Linked DNA regions of Homo sapiens. The protein of the gene in region 2 interacts with the protein of the main gene of each other region in a pairwise test. Each region holds a gene or a part of one and is shown on either strand. Other genes may lie near its edges.

Region 1 (3,910 bases), about 62 Mb from region 2:
CTCGTCTTGTGGGATGAGAGGGAGCTTAGTGGAGGACGTCATGTCTAAACTGAGCCCAAAGAGATGAGTAGTAGTTAGCCAGATGGAAACCCTTCCAGAAGAAACATTACTGCAAAGGTCAGGCCGCCAAATACAGCGTAGCAAACACGTGAGGGACTCACAGTGGGCTGTAGGAGGTGGGAAGAACTGAGAATAGTGGTGAGGGCTGAGCCTCCAGCGTCATATTAAATTACGCAGGGGACAGGTCATGACGGGCCTTGAAGCCATGCCAACCAGAGTGAACTTTATTCACCATGAGGTCATGAGAAGGGCACTTCAATGTTCTAAGAGGACTTGTGGGCTGGGTGTGGTGGTTCCCACCTGTAATCTCAGCACTTGGGGAGGCCAAGGTAGGAGGATCCCTTGAGCCCAGGAGCTGGAGACCACCCTGGGCAACATAGTGAGATCCTGTCTCTACAAAAAATAAAAAAATAAGCCGGGTGTAGTGGCTCACACCTGTGGTCCTAGCTACTCAGGCTAAGGTGGGAGGATCACTTGAGTCCAGGAGGTTGAGATCAGATCTTGACAGTGAGCCAAGATTATGCCACTGCACTTCAGCCTGGGCACAGAGTGGGGGAAGGGGAAAGGAAGGAAAGAGAGACAGAGAGAGGAAGGAAGGGAGGAAGGAAGGAAGGAAGGAAGGGAGGGAGGGAGGGAGGGAGGGGACTTGTTGCTTTTGAGGAAAATACTTGCTTTTTAGGAAAATTGGTCTGCTGGCAGTATGGAAAAGAAACCACTGAGGAGGAACATTTGAGCCAGGGCACCCATGAAAATGCTGCTCAGGAACCCACAGGAGTGATGGTGGCACAGCCAGGGAAGGAGCAGAGGGGAAACAGACAAGGGGACAGATTCCAGCGACATTTAAGAGGCAGAATAAAAGCGAGCTAGTGTGCAACTGGACGCGAGAGGAACGGAGGGGCCCAGGAGGATGCAGATCTCCAGCTTGGGCAACTGGGAGCGTGGTGGACAGGTCACTGAGATGAAGAACCCAAGATAACAATCAGACTTGAAGATAAAGCTCATGAGCTGATTCTTAATAGTCACAGAATTCCCTTAATTTTTGCCTTTTTTTCCCTTCCAAGACTCCCCAGACTTTTTTTTTTTTTTTTTTTTTTTGAGATGGAGTTTCGCTCTTGTTGCCGAGGCTGGAGTGCAATGGCGTGATGTTGGCTCACCGCAACCTCCGCCTCCCGGGTTCAAGCGATTCTCCCGCCTCAGCCTTCCGAGTAGCTGGGATTACAGGTATATGCCACCACACCCGTCTAATTTTGTATTTTTAGTAGAGACCGGGTTTCTCCATGTTGGTCAGGCTGGTCTCGAACTCCCGACCTCAGGTGATTCCCCCGCCTCAGCCTCCCAAAGTGCTGGGATTGCAGGCGTGAGCCACCGCGCCCGGCCAACTCCCCAGACTATTAATGACATCCTACAAAACGAGAAGCCGGGTTCTACGCTTGCACTGCTCCCTGTCCCGGAGACCGCACGCCCGAGCCCACCGAGGGGCCCGCCTCGAGCTCGGCGTCCTCCCAGGTTACCTCGAGCTCAGGGAAGCTGAGCACCACCAGGGAAGCACAAGCGCGGACACTGTCCCCTTTCACGAAGGACACGTCAACGCCCCCGACCCTCTGCAGACCCGAGAAGGCGGGGTCTCGCTGCCACGCCTCGGTGTCCCGGTCTACGACGTGGGCCTTCAGCCGAGCTTGCTCCCTAGGAGGACAGAAGCGTCAAACTTGGTCGGGGTCACACCTCAGACTCTGCCTCCTCCACCCGCGCGGCTGCAGCGGACAGAGCGCCTCTGCCGGGTCTTCTCCCGCTTCAAGGGAAAGCAAGGGACATACCGCCGAGGCCACAGTCCCTAGGAGCCCAGGCGGCGGAGACCCGCGCAAGCGCAGGCCAGACAAACTGGCCGGAAGCGAGAACCGCGCCCACCCCGCGGACTACAATTCCTGAGATCCCTCCGCTTCCGCGCCGGAAACTGGGCTTTGCTTTGGAGTCTCGGGCGGTGGCAGCTCCGATTCCACAGCCTGAAGACTATGAGCTCGGAGGGTCCGCGAAGGGCCGCCCGGCCTCGGCCCCCGCCTCCTGCGCGTCGCCTGACAGCATTACCGTTTCCACAGTGACAGCGTTTCCTCCGGCGGCCCTCCCGCCGCCTCCAGGGCCATGGCTTCGTCCCGGGCACCCCTTCCGCACGTCACTTCCGGAAGCGACTCGCTCTGACGCCGTCCGCCCTCGTTGCCATGGAGACGCTTGCGCTTTCCCGGGCCGCACTTCCCACCCGGGTCTTCAGAAGCCCGTGGCCGCTGGGTGAGCCCCTGCGTGAACGCACACGCACGCACACGGCTTCAGGTTGCCCCGCGGCGCCGCGCGCGATATCGGCTCGGATCCCGGGAGGCCGTCCGCCCCTTTTTCAGCGGATAGCTGAGGCCAGGTAAGTGACCGCGCGAGGACCCGGGAACTCCGTGACGCCCGTCCCGCCTCTGCTGTCCCCGCCGCAAGCGCTGCGCTCTGCACGGCGAGAGGGGCCTCTTGCCCTGTTGAGAGCCGGCGGGCACGGCACTTCTGCGCTTGGAAAAGGGTGGTCCAGCACTGCAGGTCCCACTCCTTGGCCCGGTCAGCGTCCGCCTTTGCTGAACCCCGAAAGGATTCACCAGGTCCAGGACAGCCCGGCAGTTGCCTCAGGAGCACTTACTGAGCGCCTGTCGTTGACGCCCCCACCTCGATGGCAGCTCAGGGGTGCCCTCAAGCTTTTGAGGGCAGGTGTCGTGTATTTAAATTCTTCACAGTTTAGCGGGCTGGACTCACGGGGGTGCTGCAGACTTGGACGGGGTTTCATCTGGGTCGGACCTTGCTGGGCAGAAAGCTTCTCCTACCAGACAAAGTACGGCGACCTTGGGGGGTCTTGGTTCTTACCTCGTGTTCCTCATTGAATGAGTGTTGGTTCAGTGCTCTCGCTGTGCCAGGTGTTGTGCGAAGTACTGTGAGGGAGAATATGTATTTATTTGTGGGGAGCCGACTTTAAACCGGTGGTTGGGAAAGGCCTGAGAGGCGATATTGAAGACACCTGAAGGGTGAGTGAAAGAGCACGGCGGGTGAGTGGAGCAGCTTTCTCGTGCAGGTCCCGGGGTGGGAAAGAGGTTGGTGTATTTGAAGCACTGAAAGGCAGCCACTGAAGCTGAAGTGTAGCAGTTTAACCCATGGTTTTATATTCTCCTGGGAGGATTCAGAAGGGTGTATGTGTGTATGTATATATAATAGCCTGAATATAAACGTCAAGGGTGTTAGGTTTTGAAGGGAAGGTGAAGGTTAAAGAATGACGCACAGTGAGATTGCCGGCGCGCGGGCGGCTCTACAGCAACACAGGTGTATTGCAAACACCTGTCGGGGGCCAGCTTAATGCCAGAGCCCACCAGCGATTACAGGCTGGGGTACTCATAGGCCTGGGCAGGAGGGATCTAGGCAGTATGGCTTGCTGTCCGGGAAGATGTTAACGTGTTCCCAGGATGAGGTGGTTCCGGCAGAATGTGGTGTTCCTGGCGCTTTGTCCCAGCAGAATATGTTAAGAGGCAGGCTGTTTCTCATGGCTCGAACCCCCGTGGAATGTTTCACTTTGACCAAGGTCTACAAAATGGAAAGGGGCTTACAAAATGACGCAGTTTGGACTAACAAAGGGGAAAATACAGAGGATGAAATTAGACTCTAGAGGTTGAGGCTCAGGAAAGGCTTCATACAGCTTTGGGAACTGACAAGGCTTTGAAAGCAGGGTCAGTTTTCAGCGAATGAGCGTCACCCACTGCACCCTGCGCACCCTGCTCCCCTGCTGCGGTGTCTTTCCCACCAGAGTGTAGCAGGACAAGCCGCAGACAAAACCCCTCAG
Region 2 (3,810 bases):
GACGGCCAGGAGTGGTGGCTCACACCTGTAAGCACTTTGGGAGGTTAAGGCGGGTGGATCACTTGAGCTCAGGAGTTCAAGACCAGCCTGGGCAACATGGTAAAACTTTGTCTCTACAAAAAATACAAAAATTAGCCAGGTGCGGTGGCAAGTGCTTGTAGTTCCATCTACTCATGAGGCTGAAGTGGGAGGACTGCTTGGGCCCAGGAGGTGAGACTGCAATGAGCCATGATCGCACAACTGCACTCCAGCCTGGGTGACAGAGTGAGACCTTGTCTCAAAAAAAAAAAAAAAAAAAAAAAAAGAACCAGACGCTATTCATCAAGACAGTGACTCAATGACCCCAAAGGCATTTCTGAGATCTTTGTGACTGCCCATCTCATCATAAGCCTAGAATGCCAGGGTCTTGGGGGCAGAACGATTTCAAGGCTCCACTTCCCACATTCCAGAATACTCCTTACCCACTCCAGCTATAGCTCAAGCAGGTCCAACTATAGCTCGGGCCACCCCTCTGGAAGGCACAGGCAACAAACCACAGTGGTGTCCGTGCAGGGCCATCTCCACAGTGCACAGAGTGAATGAGCTGTGGGGGCACATCTACCTCTACCCAGACTTCAAAGGATGCCCCAAAGAGTGCCAGGGCCCAAGCAGAGAACTGTCACAAGGGCAGGGCCACCAGAGAGACCCCACTAGGGCAATGCCCAGTGGAGTTGTGGGGCAAGACCACCCCAAGACCCAAGACTGGTAGAACCACTAGAGTGCAACTCCAGCCTGAGAGATGCAGGCATGAGAATCCAGTGACTGAGAGCTGCTGCATGGGCTGCTCCCAGCAAAGCTGTGGGAGTGGGGCCATCCAGAGCTTTGCAAGACCAACCCCTGCCCCAGTTTTTGTGGAAGGCGGGGCTTTGAGTCAACTTAAGCCTTAAGATTTAATGTTGTTTGTCTGGTTGGGTTTTAGACTTGGTCAGGACCTGTCACTCCTTTCTTTCTTCCTACTTCTCCCTTTTGGTCTCGAACTCCTGGCCTCAAGCAACCCTCCCACCTTGGCTACCCAAAACGCTGGGACTACAAGCGTGAACCACCACACTGGGCCTCACTTCTCCTTTTTGGAATGGGAATGTCTATCCAATGTCTGTCCCACCATTGCATTTTGGAAGCATACAACCTGTTTGATTTCACAGGCTCACAGCCGGAGAGAAACGTGCGTCAGAGTGAATCCCAGAGCTGGAGTCTTACCCATATTTGATTTAGATGATATTTAGATGGGACTTTGGACTTCAGACTTTTGAGGTGATGCTGAAATTAAGTTAAGACTTACCCGGAGTTAACATTTTGGGGGCTATTAGGATAGAATGAATGTATTTTGCACGTAAGATGAACATGAATTTTGAGGGGCCGGGGCAAAATGCTATGGTCTGAATTTTTGTGTCCTTCCAAATTCATGCTGGAACCCACTGTGGTGGTATTAAGAGGTAGGGCTTTTAGGTGACTAGTTTGTTAGGACTCTGCTCTACGAAGGGGGTCAGTGCCCTTGTCAGAGAGGCTTGAGGGAGTCTTCCACCTTTCTCCACCACATGAGGATGCAGCAAGAAGGTACCATCTACGAGGAACAGGCCCTCGACAGACACCAAATCTGCTGGCGCCTTTATCTTTTTTTTTTTCTGAGAAGGAGTTTCACTCTTGTTGCCCAGGCTGGAGTGCAATGGCGCGATCTCGGCTCACCACAACCTCTGTCTCCCGGGTTCAAGCGATTCTCCTGCCTCAGCCTCCCAAGGAGCTGGGATTACAGGCATACGCCACCACACTTGGCTAATTTTGTATTTTTAGTAGAGAGGGGGTTTCTCCATGTGGATCAGGCTGGTCTCGAACTCCTGACCTCAGGTGATTCACCCGCCTCGGCCTCCCAAAGTGTTGGGATTACAGGCGTGAGCCACCGTGCCCGGCCCATCACGGGGTCAGTGCTGGCGCCTTTATCTTGACCTTCACAGCCTCTAGAACTGTGAGCAATAAATTTGTTGTTTATATTACCCAGTCTAAGGTATTTCATCACAGCAGCCTGAACTAAGACAAATAGGTATACAATCTTATATTCTGCCTTGTTCATATATATTCCATATATTTTTCTCGTTTCCAGATAGTCTTGATTATTTCAAAGGGCTGCATAATTAGCTGTACTGACACAGTATAATTTACCAAGCCCTACACTCTGGTAAACCATTTAAACCTTTCTAATATTTTGCATTAAAAACAACATCACAGTCAATAACTTTGTATATAAAAAGCTTTTTGCTTATGTTAAACTACACTCTAGTATATACTGCTGAATGAATGAATGGACTTCCCTGAAGCATTGCAACTGTCTCAATAGTCCAAACATTTTCACAGGTCTTGCAAAGAAGGACAGACTGCTTCTAAACGGCCTTACAATTTACAAGGTAATCAGAAATGCATTCGCTACTATCTGGCCAAGAAAGGTGTTAATGAGTTTTTGCCAACTAAAAAAAAACGAAGAATGAGGAAAAAAACCACACAGACAACAGTGTAGTCAGCCTTAAAATCAGAGGAAAGTGGGAAAGAGGCAGCAGCACACTTACTGGGGATCTCCAGGCTGGGGTGGATGGCAGCCACACTTCTGACCATGGGTGGGGAATGCCGTCCATCCACCAAGTCCGACTCGGCATCCTGCGCCTCTCCATGAATCACTGCAATTCCCAGGCGCAGGCGCTCAGCAAAAGACTGTGCCCTGAGGGAAAACACCAGACACAAGCTCAAAACTCATGCAGCCCTTGGTTCTGCTAATGCCTAGGGGACAAAACATTAAGAGAACATAAGTAGAATGTTGTCTCCCAAAGGACTAAAGAAAAGAGAGAATAAAACAGCCTTAGACTCTTAGAAACCAGGACTAACTGTAGAGACCCCACATGCCAAACACTTCCCTCTGCAGCAGCACCAAAGAAGGGCAGCAGCCTGGCCTGGTCTGCAAGCCACTGGCCGGGAGAGCCTGACTGAGTGAAGGAACCTCCGCTCAGCTCTGTCTCACCTAAAGCTGCTAATTCTACCTGCCTGCCTACCTACCAGTGAGAACCAACTACATGGGGCAAAGGGCATAAAATGCTCACCAAAGTATTAAGCACAAATTTCTTAATAGTTTTAGGGAGGTAAAACTGAGATATGAGAAACTGTGCATATCTAAAGTATATAATTTCATGAGCTCTGAAGGCTGTATGTGCCCATATAAGCATTAGCACAATCAAGATAAGGAACGTCATCACCACAAGCATCTCCTTATGCCCCTTAGTGATTTTTCACTAAGTGTTGCCCCAGGCAACAGCTGATCTGCTTTCTGTCACTATAGTTTCACCTATCTAGAATTTCACGTAAGTGAAATCATAAAGTTGCCTTTTTTTGTCTGATTTTTTTTTGAGATGGAGTCTTGCTCTGTCGCCCAGACTGAAGTGTGGTGGCAGGATTTCTCAGTTCACTGCAACCTCTGCCTCCCGGGTTCAAGCGATTCTCCTGCCTCAGCCTCTCAAATAGCCAGAACTACAGTCATGCACCACCACATCTGGCTAACTTTTTTGTATTTTTAGTACAGATGGGGTTTTACCATGTTAGCCAGACTGGTCTCGAACTCCTGACCTGAAATGATCCACCCACCTCGACCTCCCAAAGTGCTGGGATTACAGGTGTGAGCCACTTGCGCCTGGCCATTTTGTCTTATTTTACGCAGCACATGTTTTGGAGATTCATCCATGGAATAACATATCAATAGTTCATTCCCTTTCATTGCTGAGTAATATTCTGCTGGGT

Evidence for each region.
Region 1: the proteins of PRPSAP2 (region 2) and ENDOV interact in a two-hybrid assay, tested with the Homo sapiens proteins (one large-scale study listed by IntAct).

The regions. Positions count from the first base shown.
Region 1 is NC_000017.11:80,413,483-80,417,392, reverse strand, and holds the start of ENDOV (endonuclease V), read right to left. Parts: upstream 2,227-3,910; 5' UTR 2,199-2,226; coding exon 2,143-2,198; exon of another isoform or gene 1,744-2,142; coding exon 1,572-1,743; intron 1-1,571.
Region 2 is NC_000017.11:18,910,036-18,913,845, reverse strand, and holds part of PRPSAP2 (phosphoribosyl pyrophosphate synthase-associated protein 2), read right to left. Parts: intron 2,744-3,810; coding exon 2,595-2,743; intron 1-2,594. UniProt on the Homo sapiens protein: Seems to play a negative regulatory role in 5-phosphoribose 1-diphosphate synthesis.